2 separate regions of the Homo sapiens genome follow, and region 2 is linked to region 1. Evidence: fine-mapped expression QTL. Tissue or cell type: esophagus mucosa. Region 1 holds a variant in brackets; the other region holds the start of a gene. All regions are shown on one strand. Distances are between the middles of the regions.

Region 1 (8,100 bases):
CCTGGGAGGCAGAGGGAGGTTGCGGTGAGCCAAGATTGCGCCATTGCACCACTCCAGTCTGGGCAAGAGCGAAACTCCCTCAAAAAAAAAAAAAAAAAAAGAAAAAGAAAAGGGAAAACAGCCAGGCAGAAGGATTGAACCAGCAAATCCAGGTACCTGGAGGCTGGAAAGAATGTGTGTGTGGCAGAAACTAAAATCATTGCAGTATGCCATGAGCTCAGCTTAGAACAAGTAAGGAGCAGGGGACCGGAGGGGAAGCCCAGGGTTGCCAGGCCTCCAATGCCAGACCTCTGTAGTTTGTTCACCCCATTTCTGTGTGACTGTGGACAGCTTGCTTAACCTCTCAGATCTCAATCTGGGACACCTATAAAGTGGAGACATAAAAGTCCCTTTCCTTCTCACATGATGTTCTGGGTGGGAATGTAACATGGTGTAGAAAGTTCAGCACATTGCCCCGCTTTGAACTAACCACTTGATAAATGTCAAATATAATTTTTAACAGCTTTATTGAGGTATAATTCAGATGTCATCAAATTCACACACTTGAAATATACAACTGTGGTTTTTAGTGTATTTTACAGAGTGGTGCAACCTTCACCACATTCTAATTAAAAAAAAATTTTTTTTTTTTTGAGACGGAGTCTTACCCTGTTGCCCAGGCTGGAGTCAGTGGCATGATCTCAGCTTACTGCAACCTCTGCCTCCTAGGTTCAAGCGATTCTCCTGCCTCAACCTCCTGAGTAGCTGGGATTACAGGCATGCACCCCCATGCCTGGCTAATTTTTTTCTATTTTTAGTAGAGACGGGGTTTCACCTTGTTGGTCAGGCTTGTCTCGAACTCCTGACCTCGTGATCCACCCACCTTGACCTCCCAAAGTGCTGGAATTGTGGGCGTGAGCCATAGCGTCCAGCTTTTTTTTTTTTTTTTGAGACAGAGTCTCGCTCTGTTGCCAGGCTGGAGTACAGTGGCATGATCTCGGCTCACTGCAACCTCTGACTCCCTGGTTCAAACGATTCTCCTGCCTCAGCTTCCGAGTAGCTGGGATTACAGGCACGTGCCACCAAGCCCAGCTAATTTTTGTATTTTTAGTAGAGATGGCATTTCACCATGTTGGCCAGGATGGTCTCGATCTCCTGACCTCATGATCCACCCGCCTTGGCCTCCCAAAGTGCTGAGATTATGGGTGTGAGCCACAGCACCTGGTCACATATCTATATTTATTTTCTTATCCATTTATTAAAATAAACTTGAGCTCATACTGATAACCTCAATGCAGCAGTACCTGGCTTATTTGTCATTTTTTTTCCCCAACAGTATGAAACCTGGTTATTCATATCTACAACACGTGTACTTATTTGTTCAATGTTAGCATGAAAGCATTTTCAGAATTGTTGCCTTGTACTTCTTTTTCTTTTTGTTTTTTGAGACGGAGTCTCGCTCTGTCACCCAGGCTGGAGTGCAGTGGCGCGATCTCGGCTCACTGCAACCTCTGCCTCCCCGGTTCAAGCAATTCTCCTGCCTCAGTCTTCGGAGTAGCTGGGATTACAGGCGTGCACCACCATGCCCGGCTAATTTTTGTATTTTTAGTAGAGATTGGGATTTCACCATGTTAGTCAGGCTTGTCTCGAACTCCTGATCTCAGGTGATCCACCCCCCTCGGCCTCCTAAAGTGCTGGGATTAGAGGTGTGAGCCACTGCGCCCAGCCTGTTGCCTTGTACTTCTAAGAGAAACAAATTTACTGGCTAGAGTGCAGCATTTCTGTCCAGTTCGGATAGCTGTTTGAGTGTGAAACCTCACTGAGCTGCACAAACAAGCCTTGTGCATGTGAGTTGGAGTTGGCCCTCGGGCCTCCCGTTTGAGACCCCCAAACCCTGCCTCTCTGTTCTCTGGCTGTGGGAAAGTTGTCAGTTCACACCTCCCTGCAGCCACATTTAAGTTTCAGGGCTGTGAAAAAGGGAATGTGGGCCGGGTGCAGTGGCTCATGCCTGTAATCCCAGCCCTTTGGGAGGTCGAGGCAGCAGGATCACTTGAGCCCAGTAGTTTGAGACCAGTCTGGGCAACATGGCGAAACTCTGTCTCTACAAAAATACAAAAAAAGTAGCTGGGCATGGTGGCGCATGCTACTTGGGAGGCTGTAGTGGCAGGATCCCTTGAACTCGGGGTGGAGGTTGCACTGAGCCAAGATCACTGCGCACTGCACTCCAGCCTGGGTGGCAGAGCCAGACCCTATCTCAAGAAAAAAAAAAAAAAAAAGACCGGGCAGGGTGGCTCACGCCTATAATCCTAGCACTTTGTGAGGCCAAGGCAGGTGGAACACAAGGTCAGGAGTTCGAGACAAGCCTGACCCATATGGTGAAACCATGTCTCTACTAAAAATACAAAAATTATCCGGGTGTGGTGGCGCGTGCCTGTAATCCCAACTACTCAGGAGGCTGAGGCAGGAGAATTGCTTGAACCCAGGAGGTGGAGGTTGCAGTGAGCCCAGATAGTGCCATTGCACTCCAGCCCAGGTGACAGAGTAAGACTCCGTCTCAAAAAAAAAAAAAAAAAAAAAAAGGGCAGGGGGAGTGAGGAGGGTGGGAATGGGAGTGGGTGAAGGGGATCTGAGGGTACCATGGGAGGCAGTTTGCCCTCTCGAAGGTGCAGACCCAGCTCTGCAAGAGCGGGCGCTGGGTGGAGCTGCCTCTGTGGGCGAGGGTGCTGGCAGCAGAACTGGCCCAGCGGGTGTGCTGGCCTAGGCATGCTTCAGGCGGGAGGGCTGCTGCAAGACACAGCAGGAACATAGAGGCCAGGGGTGCCCTGAACCCGGGAAGAGACAGTTTGGCCTGTGGGGTGTGGGAGGAGGTATGGGGTGGGGGCGGGTGGTGGCAATGTCTGGGGCTGATTCCTTATGAGCCCATTGCCCTAATTCTTCTTTGGGGATACAGTGGTGACCAATAATAGCTGCACTGACATTTGTGGAGCTCTCATTGTATACCTTGGCTCTGTTCCAACTGTTCATTTCATCTTCAACAACAGCCTTGGAGTGGGTGCGGTTATCTCAATTTTATTTTTATTTTTTTTTTGAGATGGAGTCTCACTGCATTGCTCAGGCTGGAGTGTAGTGGCGCGATCTTGACTCACTACAACTTCCGCCTGCCAGGTTCAGG[T/C]GATTCTCCTGCCTCAGCCTCCGGAGTAGCTGGGACTACAGGTGCGCGCCACCACGCCCGGCTAAGTTTTATATTTTTAGTGGAGATGGGGTTTCACCATGTTGGCCAGTCTGGTCTTGAACTCCTGACTTCAGGTGATCTGCCCACCTCGGCCTCTCAAAGTGCTGGGATTACAGGCATGAGCCACTGCACCTGGCTATTATCTCAATTTTACAGATAAGTCCACTGAGGCTCACAGTGGGTATCACTTGCCTGCCTCAAGACCTTGAGTCCTGTCTCACTCCTGTAATCCCAGCACTTTGGGAGGCTGAGGCAGAAGAATTGCTTGAGTCCAGGAGTTCAAGGCCAGCTTAGGTAACCTGGCGAGACCCTGTCTCTACAAAAAATTTTAAAAAGTAGCCAGGTGCAGTGGCTGGCACCTACGGTCCCAGCTACTCTGGAGGTTGGGCAGAGGATTGCTTGAAGCCTGGAAAGTCGAGGCTGCAGGGAGCTGTGATCACGGCACTGTGCCCCAGCCTGGATGACAGAGTGAGGCGCTGTCTCACAAAAGAAAGAAAAATCAAAAAACTGTGAGCCCTTAACCTTTAGGAATCTGGGCAGAGGGACAGACCTGCCTTCCTGGAGCTGAGGCTCTAGGTCAGAGATACACATTAGGAAAGATGAATAAATAAATGAAATGAACAAGGTGGCCGGGCACGGTGGCTCACGCCTGTAATCCCAGCACTTTGGGAGGGGGAGGCGGGCGATTCATCTGAAGTCAGGAGTTGGAGACCAGCCTGGCCAACATGGTGAAACCCCGCCTCTACTAAAAATACAAAAATTAGCTGGGCGGGGTGGTGCATTCCTGTAATCCCAGCTACTCTGGAGGCTGAGGCAGGAGAATTGCTTGAAGCCAGGAGGCGGAGGTTGCAGAGGCGAAGTTTGCAGTGAGCCCAAATCGCACCACTGCACTCCAGCCTGGGCAATAAAGGGAGATTACAAAAAAAAAAAAAAAGCAAAAGCAAGGTGATTTCAGATAATGCCAACTGCCATTTGAGATGAGGGACAGATCAGGGAAGGTCTCTCTGAGGAGGTGACCAGCTGACCAGCTGGGAAGGGGTGGGGAGAAGGGTGCTCCAGGCCACCTGGCCCCCAAGTTCAAAAGTCTTGAAGTGTGTGTGGAACTCGGAGGAGCCCGGGAGGCAGAAGCAGAGTGGAGCAGAGAGAGGCACAGAAGTAACAGAAAGAGACAAATCAGGACGGCATATGGCCTTGTCCTTGCGGGGTCCTCACTGAGGACTTGATCACTTACTCTGAGAAACACAGGGAGCCACGGGAGGGTTTGGAGCAGAAAAGAAATGTGATCTGAGTTTTAAGAACTGTGGCCAGGAGTGTGGAGTGGCAGCTAGGGATGGGACTCCCAACATCTGTCGAGATCCTGGAGCCTGAGTCCCCAGGGTCCCAATTCGTGGGAAAGAAGTTCAGGGAGGCAGCTGGAGAGGCAGGTTGCTGAGCCCGGGACCCGCAGCCGGAAGAGCCCCATTTTCGAGAGAAGTGAGATTGGCGCCTGGGAGGTGTGAAGCAGCCACCTCCCCACCCTGGGGCGCGGCTTCCCCTTTACAGAAGGAGGTCATTTATTGAGCACCTACTGGGTGCCAGCCACAGCCATGCTGGGAGATCTTCAGGGGTCATCCCAGTGGGCACCATTGGAGTTGGCTTGGTCCACAGGACTGGGGAACCTGGCACTGAAGGGTTAACACCGTCCCACCCTGCGGGTCCCATTGGCTGTGTCTTTGAGCAGAGCAGGCAGGAAAGGTTCTGCCCACCGAGGGAACAGCGGGGGCAGGAGGGCTGGGATCCCCAAGGGGCTACATGGGGGCCTGACCCGGCCTGAGTGCCCCCTGAGTTTCCTCCCACGAGGGTATCCCGGATCCACACTTATTCTCAGCCTCTGGCTCATCTCTCCTGGGGCGCCCTCACCCCACCCGCGGCCAGCAGGGCCTGAAGCATCAGGGGCAAAGGGCACGGTCCTGGAGAAGGTCGCAGCAGCGGGACCCAGCCTCCCTTCCTGAATCTGAGGGTGGAAGAGCTGGGACCGTCTGGAAGTTCCTGGGAAGTCGGGGTGGGGGCGTTTCGGGGCCAGCGGGACTGGTCGTTGGAGGAGCAGTGGCCTGGGAGAGGCGTGGGAGAGCATCACAGACAGCAACAAAGAGACACGCAGAGGCAAAGAGACACGCAGAGACAAAGAGACACGCAGGCGAGAGACTCTGAGATCCTCCTGAGAGAGATACAGAGGAAGTGAGGGAGACACTCATTCATTATCTGGGCATGGTTGCAAGCGACTGGAGTCCCAGCAGCTACGTTCAGCCGGCTGAGATGGGAGGATGGCTTGAGCCGCGGAGGTCGAGACTGCAGTGACTTATGATGTTGCCACTGCACTCCACTCTGGGCCACAGAGCAAGATCTTGTCTCAAAAAAAAAAAAAAAAAAGAAATTCTTACATTGCTGGGGTTTACTGTCTGCTAAGGACACAGCCCAGAAACACCATTAATGAGTAAATCACTTTGTCGTCAGCGATAAGGGTGGGAGAGAATCGGTCGGGGGAACACGGAATCCAGGGGGTGGGACAGGAGAGACCCTCCTTATCTGAGGAGCGGCAAGTTCCCATCACAATCCTGCCCGGGCCCGCCCCACCCCCACTCGCCCTGAGCCGGGGGCGGGAGCGGGAAATTGGGAGGGGCCTGTGCCCGGGAGCAGCGGGAACCTATCTGCTGGTGGGAGAGGACTCAGGCTAAGGTGGCCCCCACTGAAGACTCCTGCTAAGCAACCCACTGAAGACCCCTCCGAATCATCGACGGGGCGTCCTTGGGGTGCAGCCCAGGAAGCTCAGTTCACAGGTGGGTGGGCAATGGGAGGGCGCAGTGCCCGGACACCCAGGACAGAGGAGACCCCTCCGCTGGGGAGAAGAGGCTCAGGCTGCGACCGCCCTGCTGCAGAACCCTCCCTTTCCCGCCTCTCCGAGTCCTCCCACCGCGATGGAGCGTCCCTGGGAGGACAGCCCAGGCCCGGAGGGGGCAGCTGAGGGCTCGCCTGTGCCAGTCGCCGCCGGGGCGCGCTCCGGTGCCGCGGCGAGTGGCACAGGCTGGCAGCCATGGGCTGAGTGCCCGGGACCCAAGGGGAGGGGGCAACTGCTGGCGACCGCCGGCCCTTTGCGTCGCTGGCCCGCCCCCTCGCCTGCCAGCTCCAGCCCCGCCCCCGGAGCGGCGTCCGCTCACTCGGTTCAAGGCAGCGCGACTGCGGGTGGCGCACGACCAGGGCGCAGAGTGAGTGGACTGCACTGGACCTTTGGGGGCGCTGGGCTGGGCCTGACCCGGAGGGGGTCGCCCTGGCGGCCACTTTCCCGGTCTAAAAAGGCGCACCACTCCTTGCAGGGAGTTCTCCGAACTTTTCCTGGAGGCCTCTGGGGAGGGGGAAGCTGGGGGCTCCCCAGCTGGGTGCAGGACCTGGGATACGGGGTGAAGGTGGCTGGAATCCCCTGGCCACCCCCTCCTGGCCGGGCCACTGCAAGTTTCCATACTTCAGTCCTGCTGCCGGGCAAGCTGGGCGGATGGGGTTGGCCTCCCCCTCAGAGCATGTGTAACCCTGTCTCCCTGTATTTGGGCTCCCCACCTCCAGCATGGGTGAGCCAGCGACTTCCTGTCTATGTTTGCCTGCCTTGATTCTCTGTGTGTGACTGAAGCTCTCTGGGATGTCCGCATCCCTGCCTTGTGCAAAAGAGATCCATTCCCCTCCCCAGGCCTTGGCTTTCTCATCTGGACTTGCATGGGGACTATTTGTGCATGGATGTTTGTGTGGGAGCATGGAAACCTTTGCGCCTGCTTCGATACGAAGCATTTCTTTTGAGCTTCAGTTTTCTCATCTGTAAATTAGGACTAAAGGAAGTGGGGATTAATAAGGTCACAGAGGCAGGTGAGGAGTGTTATTACAGTTTAATGACATGTGTGCCCCTCTGTAAGAGTCTGTTTGCCTCTTGTGGATTCTCTCTCCTGTCCTCAGGCTCTGCCTTAGTAAAATGAGTGAATAGGATCAACTTTTTTTTTTTTTTTTTTTTTTGAGACGGAGTTTCTCTCTTGTCACCCAGGCTGGAGAGCAGGGGTGCGATCATGGCTCACTGCAGCCTCGGCCTCCCAGGCTCAAGTGATCCTCCCGCCTCAGTCTCTTGAGTAGCTGGGACTATAGGGGCATAACACCACACCTGGCTAATTTTTAAATTTTTTTGTAGAGATGAAGTCTTAGTATGTTGCCCAAGCTGGTGTCGAACTCCTGGGCTCAAGTGATACTCCCACCTCGGCCTCCCAAAGTGCTGGGATTACAGGCGAAAGCCACTGTGCCTGGCCAAGGAGCAACTTTCTCATGGGGTTTTGGGTGGATGAGGGGGTTTTGGCAGGAAAAAGCTTTGTATGCAGTGAGACAAGAGTGTGGAGTGTGGTGCACTGGGCCCCAGGCTAGTGTGAGTGGAGGTTGTGAAATTGTGGCCTGTGCCACTGGGTGGGAGACCCTGTATTCGTGTGACTGAATTTTGGTCGCTGTGTTTTTCTGCCTGCGTCACTCTGTTCCTGTATGATGTATTTTTTAGTTTCCCTGATAGTGTGTGACTGTGTGTTTTGCCCTTGTAGTGTGTCGCTGTATTTGTGTGTCTCTTTCTGTGTGTGTTGCGTTTGTGTGCGTTCTGTGTGTTTACTGTTACGTCTCTGGAACTCCCTGCTTGTGTGTTTGTGTGTGTGTGTTTGAGACAAAGTCTTGCTCTGTTGTCCTGGCTGGAGTACAGTGGCACAATCAATGCTCACTGACTGCAGCCTTGACCCCGCGGGCTCAAGTGATCCTCTCACCTCAGCTGGGACTCCACTGAGTAGCTTGGACTATAGGCATACACCAACACGTCCCGGCTAATTTTTGTAGAAACGGGGTTC
Region 2 (8,100 bases), 25 kb before region 1:
CAATTTTGCATAAAAAATTTACAGAGGTAGCCGGGCACGGTGGCTCCAGCTTGTAATCCCAGCACTTTGGGAGGCCGAGGAGGGGGGATCATGAGGTCAGGAGATCGAGAGACCATACTGGCAAAGACAGTGAAACCCCAACTCTACTAAAAATACAAAAAAAATTAGCTGGGCGTGATGGCACGCGCCTGTAGTCCCAGCTATTGGGAGGCTGAGGCAGGAGAATCACTCGAACTCAGGAGGCGGAGGTTGCAGTGAGCCAAGACTGTGCCACTGCACTCCAGCCTGGGTGACAGAGTGAGACTCTGTCTCAAAAAAAAAAAAAAAAAAAAAAAAAAAAAAAAAAAAAAAAAAAAATTACAGGGGCTGGGCACAGTGGCTCAAGCTTGTAATCCCAGCACTTTGGGAGGCCAAAGTGGGCGAATCACCTGAGGTCAGGAGTTCAAGACCGGCCTTGTCAACATGGTGAAACCCCATCTCTACTAAAAATAGAAAAATTAGCCTGGTATGGTGGTGCGTGCCTGTAATCCCAGCTATTTGAGAGGCTGAGGCAGGAGAATCGCTTGAACCCAGGAGGCAGAGGTTGCAGTGAGCCGAGATCGTGCCTCTGCACTGAAGCCTGGGTGACAGAGTGACCTGACCTCAGGTGATCCACCCACCTTGGCCTCCCAAAGTGCTGGGATTACAGGCGTGAGCCACTGCGCCTGGCCTCTTTTTTTTTTTTTTTTTTTTTTCGACAGGATCCTACTCTGTCGCCCAGGCTGGAGTGCAATGGCATAATGACAGCTCACTGTAACCTCGAACTCCTGGGTTCAAGCAATCCTCCCACCTCAGCCTCCCAAGTAGCTGAGACTACAGTATGTGCCACCACACCTGGCCTTATGTCTCTATTCTATCACTCAAGGAGAAGCCCCTGAAGTTTCTTGTTCCAGAGGGAGAGACGGAGAAGAGGGACTATCTCCCACTGCACAGGCCTTGCATCCTTCCCCAGTGTCCCTCTGCCCCACAACTTGTTCCAGCCTCTGAGGAAGATGCACTCTAAGAATCGGGTAAGGCAGAGTCTGGCTCAGGGTGGGGCCCCTGTGATCTTGGCTCCCAGCCCCTTACCTGTGCAGTCCTGAGAAACGTACACCACCAGGCGGGTGACGTCGGAGCAGCTCTCCACGGCTTTCCTGGGGGCAGGAGGGAAGGCCTGAGTGCCTGCGGGTACCCAGCAACTCCCGTGATCCCTGCAGCAGCCCTCACCTGAGGATGTGTGCCACTAGCGATGGCCCATACCAGTCACCTGCCTTCTTGCCTGAGCTCTGCCCAAGCTCCACCAGCCGGTGTAGGCCAAAGGGGGCCCGGGGGTGGTCGGCGAACCAGGACACAATCTGCCGGTGCCGGCGTTCCTGCTCCAGCTCAGGGGCACCCTGGGCCCAGCGTGGGGGCATCCAGCGGGCAGGCCCATGGTACCGGCTGGGAGAGGCTGACCCTGACAGCTCAGGGGGGCCCAGGCCCATGCCCTCGGCCCATGTCCAGTCTGGTGGAATGGAGCACATAGTCAAACAGTGCTAGTGTGTGGGGGGCAGAGGTCCCATCTACACATGCACCGCACACAATGCGAATGCTCCTGAACCCCGTAATTCAACAGAATTTACATATTCCTGAAACATATACTTATCCTTATTTATTTATTTATTTTTTGTTACTTAAAGACAGGATCTCAGCCAGACGCGGTGGCTCATGCCTGTAATCTCAGCACTTTGGGAGACCAAGGCAGGTGGATCACTTGAGGCCTGGAGTTCGAGACCAGCCTGGCCAACATGGTGAAACCCCTTCTCTGATAAAAAAAAAAATATACAAAAAGTAGACAAGCGTGGTGGCGGGCACCTGTAATCCCAGCTACTCAGGAGGCTGAGGCAGGAGAATCGCTTGAACCTGGGAGGCAGAGGTTGCAGTGAGCCAAGATCTCTCCACTGCACTTCAGCCAGGATGATAGAGGAAGACTCAGTCTCAAAAAAAAAAATAATAATAATAATAAATAAAATAAATAAATAAAGACAGGATCTCACTGTCATCCAGACTGGAGTGCAGTGGCACAATCACGTCTCACTACAGCCTCTAAATCCTGAGCTCAACAGATTCTCCCGCCTCAGCCTCCTGAGTAGTTGGGATCACAGGCACATGCCACCACACTCAGCTAATTTTTAAAATTTTTTTGTAGAGACAGGAGCCTTGTCATGTGGCCTAGGCTGGTGTCGAATGCCTATGCTCAAGCGATCCTCCTGCCTCAGCCTCCTAATGTGCTGGGATTACAGGCATGAGCCACCACACTCGACCTGTTATTGTTGGAGTCTCATTCTGTCACTCGGGTTGGAGTGCAGTGGCAGGATCATAGTTCACTGCAGACTTGAACACCTGGGCACGAGCAATCTTCCCACCTCAGCCTCCCAGGTAGCTGGGATTACAAGCATGCAGCACAGTGCCCAGCCAAAACTCTTTTTTTTTTTTTGAGACTGAGTCTCGCTCTGCCACCCAGGCTGGAGTGCAGTGGCACGGATCTCGGCTCACTGCAACCTCCGCCTCCCCGGTTCAAGCAATTCTCTGCTTTACCTTGCCAAATTACAGGTGCCTGCCACCACACCCAGCTAATTTTTGTATTTTTAGTAGAGATGGGGTTTCACCATCTTGGCCAGGCTGGTCTTGAACTCCTGACCTCATGATCCACCAGCCTCAGCCTCCCAAAGTGCTGGGATTACAGGCATGAGCCACCGTGCCTGGTGAAACTTTTTTTTATTTTTATTTTTGACACAGAGTCTCCCTCTGTTGCCCAGGCTGGAGTGCAGTGGTGCGATCTTGGCTTGCTGTAACCTCCGCCTCCTGGGTTCAAGAGATTCTCCCACCTCAGCCTCGGGAGTAGCTGGGATTACAGGCGTGTGCCACCACAACCGGCTAATTTTTGTATTTTTAGTAGAGATGGGGTTTCATCATATTGGCCAGGCTGGTCTTGAACTCCTGACCGCAAGGGATCCATCCGCCTCAGCCTCCCAAAGTGCTAGGATTACAGGCATGAGCCACCGTTTCCAACCCCGGCTGAAACTCTTATAAACAACTCTCATCTCTCCAAAACTTACTTGACACACAATTCTAACGTGACTTTGAACTCTTAGTTGGTAAGTAATTCTAATACTGCTGATATGGCAGTTGACCCTGTACTCCTAGTGCACCCCTTCCCCCCTATGGCTCACCTCTGGGCAGGAAATGCAGCAGAAGGCCCTGTGCCAGCATCATCTGGCCGCTGCGTAACATGCACCCCCAGCCACAGTCCGAGGTCAGGCAGCCCCCAGGAAGGGGCGGGAAGTCCCGGCGGTATGTGAGCCACAGGCGGGACACAAAGTCCCGCTGGAAACGCTGTATGTCACCTACAAGAGCGGGTCTGTCAGCTGCCACCAGGGACACTCCGGCGGGCGTGGAGAGGCCTCCCCCAGCCCTGGTCCCAACCACCAGCTCACCCTCGCCCTCGAAACGGTAGCGGCGGCCACAGAGGTGGATGCTGGAGATCTTGCTAAAGCTGGTCCGGCTTTTAACCACCCAACCTGGGGAGACGTAGGGGCAGCGCCCAGCGAGATGAAGCACTTGCATGACAGCAACAGCGCTTCCATTCCCCCATCTGTGAAATGGGCACGATCCTAGTTCCTATCTCCGGGGTGGCTCCGGGGATTCCGTCGGAGGTGGGGCCCCCAGTGACAGCTACAGGAGTGTCCACCATCAATTCAGGATGAAGGAAGGTAGTTCTGATTATTGTACCCATTTTACAGAGAGGGGCAAAAACGGAGGCGCCAGGAAGCAAAGGATCTTGCCCAAGGTCACACAGGGGAATGGGCGGGGCTTGAAAACACTATTGGACCTGCCACAGGTCCACCCTGGGCCGGGCAGGGAGGGGACCCACAGGTGACTCAGGACGGGAACAAGGGTGGGATAACTGGCAGGACCGGGGTCTGGTTTTCCTCAACGGCCCCCGACACCCCCACGATCTCCGGGCCCCCTCCTCACCGTACTTGACGTTGTTCCAGGCTGTCAGGAACTTGGCCTTGAACTTGTCCACTTCGTCCGGCTCACTCGGGCCAGCCCCGGGAGAGCCAAGAGCGGGGCCGCTGGCTCCGGAAGGCCCCAGGCCGTTGGGGTCTGGGCCTCTGGGACCCCGCGGCCTGCGGGCCTCGGGCCGGCGGCGCGCGTCCTCCGGGCTGCTGCTCCGGTACTGCGCGGCGGCCGGCGACACTGAGTTCATGGACGCGCCGGGAGGGCGGACCGAGGGCCCAGGTGGGGGGCTGCGGCCGCTGCCCCCCAAGGGCGACCCGCAGCCGGTTCACGGGGCCCGGGGAAGGCGCTACTCGGCCCCCGTCCCCAGGGTACCGGGCCAGGCAACAGCCGCCGCCGCTGCTACCGCAGCCATCGCCATCTTAGCGGGCCAGGACCCCGGATGACGGTGGGCGTGGCCAAGCCAGACGCCCCGCCCCGCCCTCTCCCCGCCCAGCCGCCTTTCCTGCCCCGATCCCGGGTCGCCAGGCGGGGACCTCAAACCCCGACGCCTTCCCGCGGCCTCCCCCCGCCCTCCTTATCACACCGCCAGGAGCGCGACAGCCCCTTCAGGCCCTTATCGGAGGCAGCAGAGCTGGGGAACCCCTGCCCCTGGCCCCGCCCCTAGTCCTGCCCCCCAGGGCCCAGGACTGACCTCCTGGCAGGCGCCCAGGTGAGACTGACTGCGCACCTGCAGCGCCCGCCCCGCCTCCCGAGTGCACCTGCGCGGGCTGCCGACCCAGAACCCGCCCTGGCCTGGGACCAAATCGACTAGTGTGACCTCCGGGGCAAGCCACGCCTCTCTGTGCCTCAGTTTCCTCATGTGCAAAATAGGGCTGGAATACACGCAACAACATAGACGAATCTTCATGAGAATTATGCTCAGGGAAAAAAAATCCAGGGGTAGGCAGGCGCGGGAGGGAGGGATGAATGAAGTGCTCCAGGAAAGTTTTTTTCAGTGTTTGTTTTGTCGAGACAGCATCTGGCTCTGTTGTCCAGACTGGAGTGCAGTGGCGCTTTCATAGCTCACTGCAGCCTCCAACTCTGATCCTCCAACCTCAGCCTCCAGAGTAGCTGAGACCGCAGACAGGAGCCACCATGCCTGGTTAATTTTTTAAATTTTATTTGTAGATAAGGGGTCTCGCTATGTTGTCTAGGCTGGTCTCAAACTCCTGGCTTCATGAGATCCTCCCGCCTCAGCCTCCCAAATGCTGGGATTACAGGCGTGAGCCACCACCTCAGGCAGGAAGACATTTTTTGGAGCTGTGGATAAATTCAGTATCTTAACTGTAATAGTGGCTTCACAGGTGTGAAAACTCATCAGATTGTACGCTTAAAATTTGCATGGTTTTGTATATGTCTATTATACCTCAATAAGGCTGAAAAAAAACCTCTTTGTTTTAAAAAGTAATCAGTTAACTTTTTATAGAGACAAGTTCTCTCTATGTTGCCCAGGCTGGCCTGAAACTCCTTAGCTCAAGTGATCCTCCTGCCTCAGCCTCCCAAGTAGCTGAGACTACAGGAAAATATTTTATTTTATTTTATTTTTTAATTTTTTTTCTCTAACCTTGCGAGGCCCAAACAGATTTTGGTTGTTGTTGTTGAGACAGGGTCTTGCTCTGTCATCCAGACTACAGTGCAGTGGCCTGATCATGGCTCACTGCAGTCTCAACTGCCGAGGCTTAAGCAAGTCTCCTGCCTCAGCCACCTGAGTAGCTAGGACTATAGGCACATGCCACCACCCCTGGCTAATTTTTTTTTTTTTTTTTGAGACGGAGTCTCGTTCTGTTGCCCAGGTTGGAGTGCAATGGCGCGATCTCGACTCACTGCAAGCTCTGTCTCCCAGGTTCACACCATTCTCTTGCCTCAGCCTCCCGAGTAGCTGGGACTACAGGCGCCCGCCACCACGCCTGGCTGATTTTTTGTATTTTTAGTAGAGACGAGGTTTCATCGTGTTAGCCAGGATGGTCTCGATCTCCTGACCTCGTGATCCGCCCACCTCGGCCTCCCAAAGTGCTGGGATTACAGGCGTGGGCCACCGTGCCTGGCCACCCCTGGCTAATTTTTAAAAATTTTTCTGTAGAGATAGAGTCTCCCAGTGTTGCTCAGGCTAGTCTTGAACTCCTGGGCTGAAACGATTAGCCTCAGCCTCCCAAAGTTCTAGGATGACAGACATGAGCCACTGCACCTGGCCAGGGACAATTTTTATTTTTTATTTTATTTTCATTTATTTATGTATTTATTTTGAGATGGAGTTTCGCTCTTGTTGCCCAGGCTGGAGTGCACTAGTGCGATCTTGGCTCACTGCAACCACCACCTCTCAGGTTCAAGCAATTCTGCTGCCTCAGCCTCCTGAGTAGCTGGGATTACGGGCGCACACCACCACGCCCAGCTAATTTTTGTATTTTTAGTAGAGATAGGATTCCACCACGTTGGCCAGGCTGGTCTCGAACTCCTGACTGAGGTGATCCGCCAGCCTCGGCCTCCCAAAGTGCTGGGATTACAGGCATGAGCGATTGCACCCAGCCAGGAAAAAGTTTTAAATGTGTCTAACTCATAAAGATGTATGGGAATGAGCTGAACTTACCAATGTAAAGTGCTTAGAGTGGTATTTGAGGAACAGTTGGGGCTCAGTGAGAGCCAACTGCATGATGACAATGCAGTGACCCTGTGAGCCATGGAGAGGGTGGCCTCTAGTGGCCAGCCCCGGGGCTCTGTCCTCAGCTCTCTGAAGGAGGTAAGAAAGATTTGAATGAGGGTGTGATCCAAGAAGGAGAAGGCACAAAAGGGGCAGTCACCTCCCTGACTTTCCTTTTTTCCCCTCTCCTCCCAGTCGCCTTCAATCACAATTGACCCCTTTCTCTTTCATTAATTTATTAATTTATTGATTTATTTTATTTTATTTTTTTGAGACAGAGTCTTGCTCTGTAGCCCAGGCTGGAGTGCACTGGCACAATCTCAGCTCACTGCAACCTCCGCCTCCCAGGTTCAAGCAATTCTCCTGCCTCAGCCTCTGGAGTAGCTGGGATTACAGGTGTGAGCCACCACACCCGGCTAATTTTATATTTTTAGTAGAGACAGAGTTTCACCATGTTGACCAGGCTGGTCTTGAACTCCTGACCTCAGGTGATCTGCCCGCCTGGGCCTCCCAAAGTGCTGGGATTACAGGCTTGAGCCACTGCAACCAGCCAAGTGCACCCTTTCTCAAACTCAACAGAGCCAATGCCACCTCAGAGTCTTTGCACTTGCTGTTCCCTCTGCCCAGACCACGTTTCTTACCATGGCTCTCCGTCACCTCCTTCAGGTCTTTTTTTTTTTTTTTGGCAGGGTCTCACTTTGTTGCCCAGGCTGGAGTGCAGTGGCACGATCATAACTCACTGCAACCACGACCTTCTGGGCACCAGTGATCCTCCTGCCTCCTGAGTAGCTGGGATTACAGGCATGTGCCACCACACCCAGCTAATTTTTATATTTTTAGTAGAAATGGGGTTTCACCATGTTGGCCAGGCTGGTCTCGAACTCCTGACCTCAAGTAATCCACCCACCTCAGCCTCCCAAAGTACTGGGATTACAGACGTGAGACACTGTGCCCGGCCGCAAGTCTTTATTCAAATATCACCCCTACACGAAGATTACCACTCTCAAAATTCTCCCCCATCTCCATCCTTGGTCTCCTTCTCTTCCCTGCCTTTTTCCCCCTCCCCGCCGCATGGGAGTAGTTATCACAACCTTACTGTCTTTATCCCCTTGGGCTGCTGTGACAAATACCATAGCCTTGGGGGCTAAAACAACACACCTTTGCTTCTCACAGTTCTAGAGGCTAGAAAGTCCCAGATCAGGGTGCCAGCATGGTTCTTGGTGGGATTCTCTTCTATTTTTTGTTTTGTTTTGTTTTTTTGTTTTAGATGGAGTTTTTGCCCAGGCTGGAGTGCAATGGCAATCTCGGCTCACCACAACCTCTGCCTCCCGGGTTCAAGCGATTCTCCTGCCTCAGCCTCCCGAGTAACTGGGATTACAGGCGCCCACCACCACACCTGGCTA

The links. PIP is the estimated chance that this variant, and not a neighbour inherited with it, causes the effect.
Region 2: ATG4D starts here. The variant in region 1 is fine-mapped to the expression of ATG4D in esophagus mucosa (GTEx, PIP 0.95).

Annotation. Positions count from the first base shown.
Region 1 is chr19:10,515,751-10,523,850 of GRCh38, reverse strand. It overlaps S1PR5 (sphingosine-1-phosphate receptor 5), which reads left to right and starts at 6,404. Exons shown (of 2, transcript NM_030760.5): 1 at 6,404-6,453. RefSeq lists enhancers at 4,497-5,059, 7,927-8,100. The variant T/C (reference allele first, on the strand shown) is at 3,152.
Region 2 is chr19:10,540,261-10,548,360 of GRCh38, reverse strand. ATG4D (autophagy related 4D cysteine peptidase) reads right to left here and starts at 4,457. Exons shown (of 10, transcript NM_032885.6): 1 at 4,036-4,457; 2 at 3,495-3,578; 3 at 3,231-3,404; 4 at 1,246-1,522; 5 at 1,108-1,172. The coding sequence starts at 4,270. RefSeq lists an enhancer at 3,471-4,066 and silencers at 4,112-4,291, 4,342-4,681, 4,692-4,741.